Regions from separate parts of the Homo sapiens genome. Here region 2 is linked to region 1. The links come from fine-mapping of genetic effects on gene expression. A gene starts in region 1. The other region holds a variant in brackets. All regions are shown on one strand. Distances are from middle to middle. Region 1 holds the start of GIN1 (gypsy retrotransposon integrase 1). Region 2 overlaps PAM (peptidylglycine alpha-amidating monooxygenase).

What was found. PIP is the estimated chance that this variant, and not a neighbour inherited with it, causes the effect.
Region 2: its variant is fine-mapped to the expression of GIN1 in whole blood (INTERVAL, PIP 0.92).

Annotation. Positions count from the first base shown.
Region 1 is chr5:103,116,955-103,122,346 of GRCh38, reverse strand. It overlaps GIN1 (gypsy retrotransposon integrase 1), which reads left to right and starts at 2,209. Exons shown (of 8, transcript NM_017676.2): 1 at 2,209-2,283. It overlaps PPIP5K2 (diphosphoinositol pentakisphosphate kinase 2), which reads right to left and starts at 2,046. Exons shown (of 31, transcript NM_001276277.3): 1 at 1,859-2,046. RefSeq lists enhancers at 1,646-1,705, 1,756-1,945, 1,976-2,235, 2,071-2,571, 2,572-3,073.
Region 2 is chr5:102,781,902-102,787,293 of GRCh38, reverse strand. The region is part of intron 1 of PAM (peptidylglycine alpha-amidating monooxygenase); the gene reads right to left. Among named protein-coding and RNA genes, the nearest start is that of PAM, 29 kb to the right of the region's middle. The variant T/C (reference allele first, on the strand shown) is at 2,729.

The sequences.
Region 1 (5,392 bases):
CACACTTCTGTTAGGCCCCAAATACACATAAAAACCCTCTCCCATCTTCTATGTTCCGCAGCATTTTGGATCTATCTTTTCACTTATCTGTTTCCATCAGGGTTGGGTTTTTTCCTCCCCAACTTTTTATTATGAAAAATTTCAAATATTCGGAAAAGTTGAAAGAACAGTTTGTTAATCATCTATATGCCCACCATTATACTCACAATTGCCAACATTTTGCCATATTTGCTATTTATACACACAGACACATACACACACATACACTTGCTGTACCATTTGAAAGTACTAGATATCAACACACTTCAACTCTAAGTACGTTAGTATGTATCTGCTAAAAATAAGAACACCTTCCTACATAACCACAATTCCTTTTCCACGTGAGAAAATTAATAGTCCATAACATTGTCTATATTGTGGTTGCATGGGAGCTTTTAAAGAATGAGGACCTAATCTATATATTCCCACTACTTAACTTGGTTCATAGCACTTATTTGGGTAATCAACAGATGTTCTACCAATTGTTCAGTTTAATACCCTCACAACAACTACTCTGAAAGTCATATGAATTTAACATTTAAAACAGCAACCTTTGATTTTAAAATTTTCTGCAAATCAGTTTAGTCATTTGCTTTAAATAAACCTGTGCTGCAGTAAGTACAGTATTCTGGGTTCTGCACTACTTAATTCTGCATCACAATGCTCCATAAAGACAGAGATCATGTCTAACTTTTGTCAGACATATAAGTAGGTACACCAAAATTTTTTAAATGAATGGATACTTTCAGACACTGAAAATGTTAGTGAAGAAATTGAAATCGAGGAAGAACAGGACAGGACAATAGAATACAGATTTTGAAGGCAGACAGATCTGGTTTTTAACACAGATTCAAACGTTTACTTATAACAAATGTTTAATAGAGCAAGTTGCTTGACTGTTCAAAGCCTCCATTTCTAACTCTGTAAAATGGTGATAATAATCTAACATACCTCCTGGAATTGTTGAGAGGAATAAATGACAAACTATGTAAAGCACTCGGCACACATAAGACTCAGTTAATGGCAACTATCGTTATTATTTTATCTATCTGAGACAAAAAAATTATCTATTTCATTTAAGAATTCTCAATAGCAAAACAAAATCCTGTCCCAGTGTAGAGCGAGGATTTTACGTGCTAAGGTCAGCTATGCTTCCCACTTCCACAGTTAAGCCTTCCAGCAAGACAACTACTAGCCAAAGGACACCAAGAGTCGCAATCTCCCAGGAAGTGGTCAAGAACCTCGTGAATGAGATCCAGGGATCATCACCCTGGCCCCTTCTTCTTCAAGGCGCAGAAGGCTGCAACGACCTCCAAATGACTAGGTGCGGCAGTGCCCTGCAGCCTCGGTCCCTACTATGAAAAGCTGCAACACATGAGGCTTTTGTTATTTTAAAGTGGGTGTGGGGTTGACAGAGAGAGGGATAAAGACTAAGGCAGAAAATTTTTTAAAAAGCCACCTCTACCCACAGCAGTCCCATAACTCGAGGCTAATCACTTCAGTGGAGCCAGGCACAGCGTGGGGTAGAAGCTCAGCGGTTCCCTTTTAGCTGATCTTCAATTTCTGGCGTCTCGAACCCAAGAAATGAAAAAGGGAAGCCATGGGGGAGCAGGAGGAGAAATCAAGGCGCGAAAGGACCCTCAAAGCTGTACTGTCACTCCACGCCCAGGCTGTCATTCTCTCCAGCACAAGCCCCTCGGTGGAGCATGTGTTTAGGGTCTGCAGAGCACAGGAGACAAAGCAGAAGCCCAGCAGCCGCCTCAACCCTGGCATGATCAGGTTCCGCATCTCCGGTTCTCCTCCGGTTTTGGGCCCTCACCTGCCACGAATGCGGTCGTCACGCGAGCAGTTGTGAGATGGTCAAGCCCATTCAGGTCTAGGTTACCCCCTTTCATCCCGGAGGCAGGGGTGAGGTGTTTGTCAAGAGACTTCAGTTGTAGGCGTGGACGTAGGCTACTTCCTTCAGTAACAGCTATAGGGCCACATAAGGGAACCTCAGGCTACTACACCTCAGGAATCTCCGTCACGCCTCTTCCCCGCCCTCCTCGGGTCTCACGCCGAAACCTCACCGGGCGGAACGATTTCCGGCAAGAGCCAAATGATCAGTCCTAACCTTTCTGACCGTGGTTCCAAGGTTCCCCAAAGGACTGCCCTCTAAAGGACCCGGGTAGTTCCGCTTCCGGCAGCGCGAGATAAATCACGAGAGGAAGCTTAAATCTGTCGTTTGAATTTAGGACCACCTCGGTGAGTGGTCGTTCTGGTGTGCTGTGTCATACCTACTGTTTTTTAAAGTGAGGCGTAACCCGACAGTAATTTCAAAACCATTCGCCTCGACCGGCCTAAGGAAGGGTTTAATTGAGTCTGTGGGGAGATTTTGCGCAAGCGCCTTTGAGATAGGAGGGCCTTGGGCGTTGCGATGTCCCGCGCTAGCTGAGCAGAAAGGGCGAGTGCTGTTTCGGGCCTGGGGAGGTGCCTACTGGGTGTAATTGAGTTTTACCAAACGGTCATTTTCCTGCTGATTCTGAGTGTGGTTGGACCTTGCCCTTAAGATTCCGTTAACGAGTCGCCCAAAGCTTAGGAAATGCTCCCTCACAGCGTTTGAGACTAAGCACTTTTGGCCGGCGTTGAAGAATTCTCCCCATTACTTTGATCAGTCATTTAATCAGAAATTTTGCCCCAAATTTAAATACGTGGCGGGGAGAAACGTGAGGTCAAGAGGGAATCCTGTCACGTAGTTTTAAAAGAAAAATGTCCACTTTATCTCAGTGTAGGTTTTTCTTAAATGGGCATTTCTGAACCAAAGTAGATACTTTTTAAAGTGGAAATGCATTTATCCCATGTGGCTTCATGTGAATGCATATGGCGATGAAGGCATTTTTTTGTTCAATGAATTTGTACTCTGAAGTGAACCAGATTACAGAGAAGTGTATTTAAATTTACAGGTCCTTGACGTTGCATAAAATTGTGCGTGTCCATTTTTTGGAGCTTAAAATAGAATAATTCAAATGTCAGAATTCCGATCCAAGTTAACATGTTGATTGAAAATTGCAGATTTTAAGATGGAACCAGCGGGTATTATAACCTTTTAGGGGCTTAAATTGGTGGCTTTGTTTTTAACCCTTGGTGAAACAGTTAAGTCCTAATCTTGACATAATACCTAACTGCCTTACTTTATTGAACACAAAATTATTAAAGGAATTAAGCAATGAGTTGATTTTATTTGCTTTTATGGAGGGGACAAAGTGTATAAAGCTTAACCAAATGTGACCCTGACATTCCTCTTGCAAAACTACAAGTTGTAATCAATCACTTTCATTTTTTCTTATTCCTACATGTTTAAGTACATTAAGTAATGATTTTAAGAGAAATTCTTGAAAATATGAGCATATCCAAAGAAGTCCCAGGACAGTCTTTCTTTATGTAGTAGAAACCACTTAATCCCCCTTGTAAATGATACCTTTACTTAGCAATCAGAGTATAAGAAGATATTTATATTTGTCTCGAATATTACAGTTTCAAGCCATTTTCTCATATGTATGGGCTTTGAAAAAAAAAAAACAACTTTCATTTACGTTACTTTTGTATATGAATACCAATTATTAGCAGTAAAACTTTTAACTACTTCAAAGGCTATGCTTTTCGTGAACTGAGTTTTCTTTCTTACGCATTTTCTATTTCTCCTTGTCATCTGTCTCTCTACCTCCAGAACCAGCAGTTTGTGAACTGCATTAGACTGTTATATCGTTATAAAAGGATACAATTCGTGAGTCTTCTGATTATTTTCTTCTTAGCACTGAAGCTTTATAAACATTGCTATAAAACATTAACACCATTAATGAAAGGAAAGAGATTTTAAAATATTTTTTCATGTAGGTGAAGATTTTGGGAAAAGAAAGGGTTTTATGTTACTTTAAACAGCCTGATATGGATGATAATACTTAGATATGATAATAATTATACATTACCATATACAAAGGACTTTTAATCATCCTCGTAATTGCAAAAAAGGGATAGATATTATGTCCTTTTCCAAACATAGATACTAAGGCTTAAGTCTATACCTTCTTAGACACAGTTTACTTATAGTGCCATGTATGTGAAAGTGAACTGTAATGTTTTCAAAAGTGAAATAATTTACCTCTGGAATATTTGCTATAATTTTTAATTCTCCTTTCAGGAAATGCAGGTAATTCTTTATTCATTCACAAATAGTTGAGTGTCCACTGTGTTCTGAACATTATGTTAAACAATGTAAACATAAAAAATTAATAAACTCTTTCCATTCCTCATTTATAATCTAAATTATTGATTACAAAAATCACTTTATAATTTGTGTAACAGAGGCCTGAACCAAGTATTATAAAAGCTAAGGATAACAAGTAATTGACTTACTGGTATAGCAGGGGGGAAAAGCGTGAAATTTGAAGTAAGAGACACCAAGTTAAAAGTGTCAGCGCATGTACTCACTTTATTACCTTGAGTAAATTGGACAATCTCTGAACCTCCATTTTCCTACCTGTAAAATGGATATAAAACTAATACCTACTTCATGAAGTACTGTGAGGATTATCATAGTAAAATACTGCATAACTATTTGCAGCTGTAGTCGTGAGTCACTTAGCAATGGAATAAATTCTGAGAAATGCTTTGTTAGGCAGTTTCAGCATTGCACGAATACAGACTCTACCTACATGAACCTAGATGATATGTGTGTGTGTGTGTGTGTATATTTTTTTCTTCATATAGAGAACCAAATGTCCCTGCACATTATTGGGTATCATTTATTTCTCCTACTTGATCTGCAGTGCTAATATCAAATGACCTATATCAGGTTCTATATATGCTCTGCTATCATCTTACGGGACCAATAGGCAGTCCATCCTTGACCAAAACATTCTTATGCAGTGCAATTGCGTTGGCATTGTTTTTAAAATTTTTAATTTTTTAAAATTATTTCCTCTTCCTATACTTTTGGCTTTTCCAGATGTCATATAAACAGAAATATAAAATATATAGCCATTTGTGTCTGGCTTATTTCACTTAGCATAATGATTTTGAGATTTATTCATATTGTTAGGTCTATTTATAGTTTGTTCCTTATCAATCCTTAATAGTATTCCAGTATGTGGATCTACTGTAATTTGTTTATCCATTCACCAGTTGATGAACATTTGTTTTCAGGTTTTGGCTGATATGAATAAAACTTCTAAAAACATACACTTACAGGTTTTTAGGTGTACATATTTTCTTTTGGGTTAGTATCTAAGATTGGTATTGCTGGACCATATGGTAAATTGATGTTTAACTTTATAAGAAATTGCCAAACTGTTTTCCAACATGTTTACATCATTTT
Region 2 (5,392 bases), 340 kb after region 1:
CAAGTCAGAAGAGCTGTGTGGGTCTGGCGGGACCTAGAGATGCAAATACCAAGAACTACATCTATTCTTCTTCTGCCAGCTCCCAACCCCACTTGAAATAGATTGAAAAATAAGGATGGTAAAACTATTTTGAGGAGGATAAATAAAATGCTAAGGATGAAGCATTTCTCCTTGGCCTTTCCACCAGCATAATGATTTCTAAATTAAGAGATTTTAAGTGAAATTCAGATCATTATAATTCAACAGCAGTAATGAACAGCCTTAATTTACAAATCTCAGATGGGAGAGTAAGATTTTTTTCTGCTTCCAGAGGTGTTACCTTCTTCTCATTACAGGGGTCAAATATATCTGCTGGGATTTATCATTATTATTATTAATTATAATCAGCCTTTGCTTGGTAGTTATCTTATTTATAACTTTTGATATAGAGTTTTTAAGATATATTCTTGACCTCTATACCACATATCAAAAGAGTAGTAAGTTACTTGTTTCTTTTCAAGTAAATTATTGATTTGCTACTGACTATGCTCAGAATGATGAATGAAGTAAGATTTCAAGCTGTGAAGAATCTGGAGCCCAGTACCTTTCTGACCCGCAACTTTGACCTAAAAAATGGCATGTGTCTAACTTGGAAAGTAATTTTTAGTTGCTATTTATTTAGAAATTATACTACATTTGTGATGCCTTTCTCCATTTTCTCCATGAATGGTTCAAAATTTAATTCCTAGAAATCACTAGTTTATAATCATTCCCTTTGATGTTCAGCAGTTCATAAAACTAACAGAAACCACATTAAAAAACTCAGAAACTGTTAATAGCAACGATTTAGAAAATAAGACTAAGTAGAGAATAAAAAATTGATATTAATAAGAGCTTACACTAATGATTACGAATTAAATTCTAGGCGCTATTCAAAGTACTTTTACAGGTTTTAACTCATTCAATGCTTACAAAAAGCCTGAGATGAATAATACTAATTTCTCCATTTTGCATATTAGGAAATGAAGACGCTCAGAGTTTAAGTAACGTCTGTTCAAAGTCACACCTTCTACATGTGGACAGAGCTCAGTCTGGCTCCAGGATCTGTGAGCTTACATGACACAAAATTGCCTCCTTTAACAGCTGAAATGTGAAATGTATTCTTGCTTGTGTCCTCTCAGTTCTTTCTCTGAAAATGAATGTGTTCACTGTACACTTGACCCAAGAATGGAACAGTAAATTTACAAAATGCAAACTTTGCTTTACCATAATTCTGCTAACATATTCCATAAATTCTAATAATTATTAAAAATAACTTCATATAAATGATCCAATGTAAGAGATTATAGTTTGTGTAAAGTTCAACATCTTTGGCTCAATTTGAAATAAAACGAACATGTTAAAAAAATAATTTAGTACATATATAACCACTTGAATGAATGATTTTTAAAAAGTTAAATACAATGGTGAGAACTTCCAACACCACTCCTTACTCCCCATTTGTTTCCAAAGTTCCAGAAACCAAATTTCCAACGAGACAAAAACATCTCTTACTAGATGCTTGAAGACACCTTATATTCAATACTTTTATGGTTTCCCCCAACTTACACTTTCTAAACACATTTCTGCCTTGTTTCATGATGTCACTTAACTAACTCAGAAAGAAATTATATTTTCTTTGACCTCACTCTCTCCCTCAACCTCTTCAAGCCAATCAGTCACCATATTTCACCATTTCTGTTTTTGAAACATCTCCTGATCCCACCACCTTCCTTCCTTCCTATAACCACCACTCTAGTTCTTATTGCCATCTTCTTACCTCCACATGATACTTCTAAAGGTAACAGCTCTAACAGGTTGCCTTACCCTCTGGTTTGTCCCTTATTTATTCAGTCTCCCACGTATCTACCAAAGTTCTTTTGTAAAACACAAAAGTACAAAGCTTTTTAAGTTTCCAATTGTTTATAACAGAGGTTCTCAAACTTTAAAGGGCATGAGATTCATTTGAAAGGCTTGCTAAGATACAGATTGCTGGGGACTCCCCCCTCCCTTTTCTTATTAAGTGAAACTGGGAAGGGGCCCAGATATCTGCATTTCTTACTAGTTCACAGGTGGTGTTAATGCTGCTGGGCTAGCATCACTACTTTTTAGTGTCCCAATCAGTGCTGTGCATTAAAACTACTTGGGATACCTATGTAACAAACCTGCATGTTCTGCACATGAATCCCAGAACTTAAAGTATAAAAAAACAAAGAACAACAACAAAAAAGTCTATTTGGGGAAGTTTTATAAAATGACTTGCTGAATCCTAAACCAATTATATGCGGGCATTGCTTTTTTGTTGTTTTTAATCCTCCAGGTGATTCTGATTTCCTAAAGTATGGAGAATCACTGGTGTTTAGTAAAAAGTTCCAAATCCTTAACATGGCATTTAAGACCACTCACCTGGTGTTTATGCACTTGCTTTGCCTAAAAATTCCTAGTAAACGAATAACAACAATAATAAAGTTTGCCTATCTAAAAGCATGTATTCCCAAATGATTTTGTGTGAATTAAATGAGATAATATATAGTAAATGCCCGCCAGTGACTGACACAAAGTCATGTTTCACATAAATGTTAACATCAATTCAATTCAACAAATACGTTGAGTATATTTTTAATTCAATTCTACATATATGTATGACTCACCCTTAATATGGAAGAGGCTACATTCTCTGCTGGGAATATCTGGTTAGATAAGACAGAGA[T/C]GGTACCTGTCCTCAGAAAGTGAACAGCACAAAAGTAATCAGAGTTTAAGGTAATGAATACCAAACGTTAGTGACTTTTGTAATAAGTACTGTACAAGGAGGAGGACAGGGTCATATGAGAGCTTACAACAGTGATACCTAAATTTTTCCAAGCTTACGGTGCCAAGGAAACCTGAAATCTAAGGTGTGTGGGTGCAAGGGGGGAAACTGAAAAGCGCATTCTAGCCCACCAAAACAGCTTGACCCAATAGCACATAGGCAGGAGCAGCTTAGGTGTGCTAGGGACAGAAAGGCTGGTATGATTGGAGCTTAGAGGTTACACAGGGAGAAGAGGAGCACCAGGTAAGAACAGAGAGAAAGATGGGGGTAGATCAGCCGGGCGCGGTGGCTCACGCCTGTAATCCCAGCACTTTGGGAGTCTGAGGCGGGCGGATCACAAGGTCAGGAGATCGAGAACATACTGGCTAACACGGTGAAACCCCATCTCTACTAAAAATGCAAAATATTAGCTGGGCGTGGTGGCGGGCGCCTTTAGTCCCAGCTACTTGGGAGGCTGAGGCAGAATGGCGTGAACCCTGGAGGCGGAGCTTGCAGTGAGCCGAGATTGCGCCACTGCACTCCAGCCTGGGTGACAGAGCGAGACTCCACCTCAAAAAAAAAAAGATGGGGGTAGATCATGAAGAATTTTGAACTTGATCCAAGAGGAGAGGGAAACCATTCAAGTGTTCTACAATTAGGTCTTCCTGAGGCTGTCACCCTCCAGCTGGTATGCTCCCTGACGGCAGGCGCTGGGTTCTATTCATCTTCCCCTTTTCCATTCTAGTTAAGTGGCCCTCATACTGCTGCATGCACATCCCAAGGGATACTCAAAGACATTCCAGTATGCAAACTGGCACAGAGGTAGTTTAAAGAGAATTAATTTCTAGATCTTTGGTCTTCATATATATTCGTTCCTAAAATTGTACTGAGACTGAATTTGGAATCTGCAAATTATTTTCTCCCACCCAGGCCTTCAGGCTTAGTTTTACTATGAACCTTGTCTTACGGTGGGAAAACTTCAGTGGGGACCAAATAAAGGGATGATTCCAAATACTGGTGTTGGTATTGAAAAAATCAATGATTCTAGGCAACACCTTCTATTGCAACTCAGATGAGTTTTAACCTTTGCTTTCACTGAAATTGAAGACAGATCTAAGCAATGGTCATTTAAACTAATTTATGGTGATAGAAAACTGAATCATATTTGTCCCAGGATATTCTGGACATAATCAAAATTATTTATTGTTTATTTGAAATTCAAATTTAACTGGGCATCTCTATTTTTTTTTTTTTTTTGCTAAATCTGGTAATACACCCACATTTTCATTTTGAACTGGGCCCCACAAACTGTGTAGCTGATCCTGGTCATGACAACAAATATAAACATTCATTTCATGAGAGAAATAACTGGGTAATTATATATGCCACCAGCTAAGATCATACTCAATGAAAATACCTCTTATTTGAGTTTTTTTTCTTTCCTGCCCTTGCAACCCCACACAGAAATACACCCTGACATACAATTTTCCTGCCAAGTTTCCATCTTCAAAGTGTAAAAGTGGTACTGCCAACTGGGAAATAAAAACTTGAAAATGAAAGGCCATTAGCATCTCAGATACACCAAAAATATGGGGAGTATAATAGAAGGAAAGAAAACTTTGAAAAGGCAGATTTTTCACAAAAGCAAAATTTCTCAAAAAAAAAAACTGATTGACAAAAAAGCCAACATGTTGCCTGTACCAGTTTCACCAGTAATAAATAAAATTACACACACACACACACACACACACACACACACACAGAGAGAGAGAGAGAGAGAGAGAAATGGAGAAAGGAAGGGAGCAAGTGCTCTGGGTACTTAACTGATTCTGACTTTTCCACTACCTGGAACTTAAGAACCAAATATTGACTTTGGGAATATCTCTAAATCCTATGACGTGATTTTCACTTTCAAATATTATGTTTGAAAGATTTGCATGTACTTCTCACTTCTCAATAAACATAGATGTTTTCCTTTCAAGTATCTTTCTAAAACAAGAGCCAAGTTTTTTCCTTCTCCTCTATAGCTGTCAATCATATTTATTATTTGTATCTATTTCAAACTCATTTTGCAATAAAGGATTTCAAAATCTTCTCTCCTTCCTCTGGGGGGAAAACAAAGGGTGAAACAAACAAGGAAGATGACTTTGTATAATCCTTTCAATTTAGATCTGGATTCGTTCCGGCTATGAACTTCATACCAGAGTTCTGCTTTAAGTGCTTCAGATATGGACAAGATGAAAGAAGCTCTTATATCCTATAAAGAGCAAATTCACCTTTGGTGTAAATGTTGGAGAAGTGTGAGGTATGATTTACTCTTTGAAGAAAACATAATGTGTTCTAAAGTGTTCAGGTTTGAAATTCTCCAAATGTTGAGCTCCTAGGAATATCCATTTCATGAGCAAGGATACAAAACCAATCCATCCTTATTCAGTTCAAAGTTTAAGGCTGGAGTAAGTAGTGGACAAGAACACGGATGTGGACTGCAGACTGGCTGTTTTCAGATCGCAGACCAGCCACTTACCCTTACGACCTTGGGCAAGCTTTTTTAAGTTCCTGATGCCTCATTTACATAAGGGAGATGAT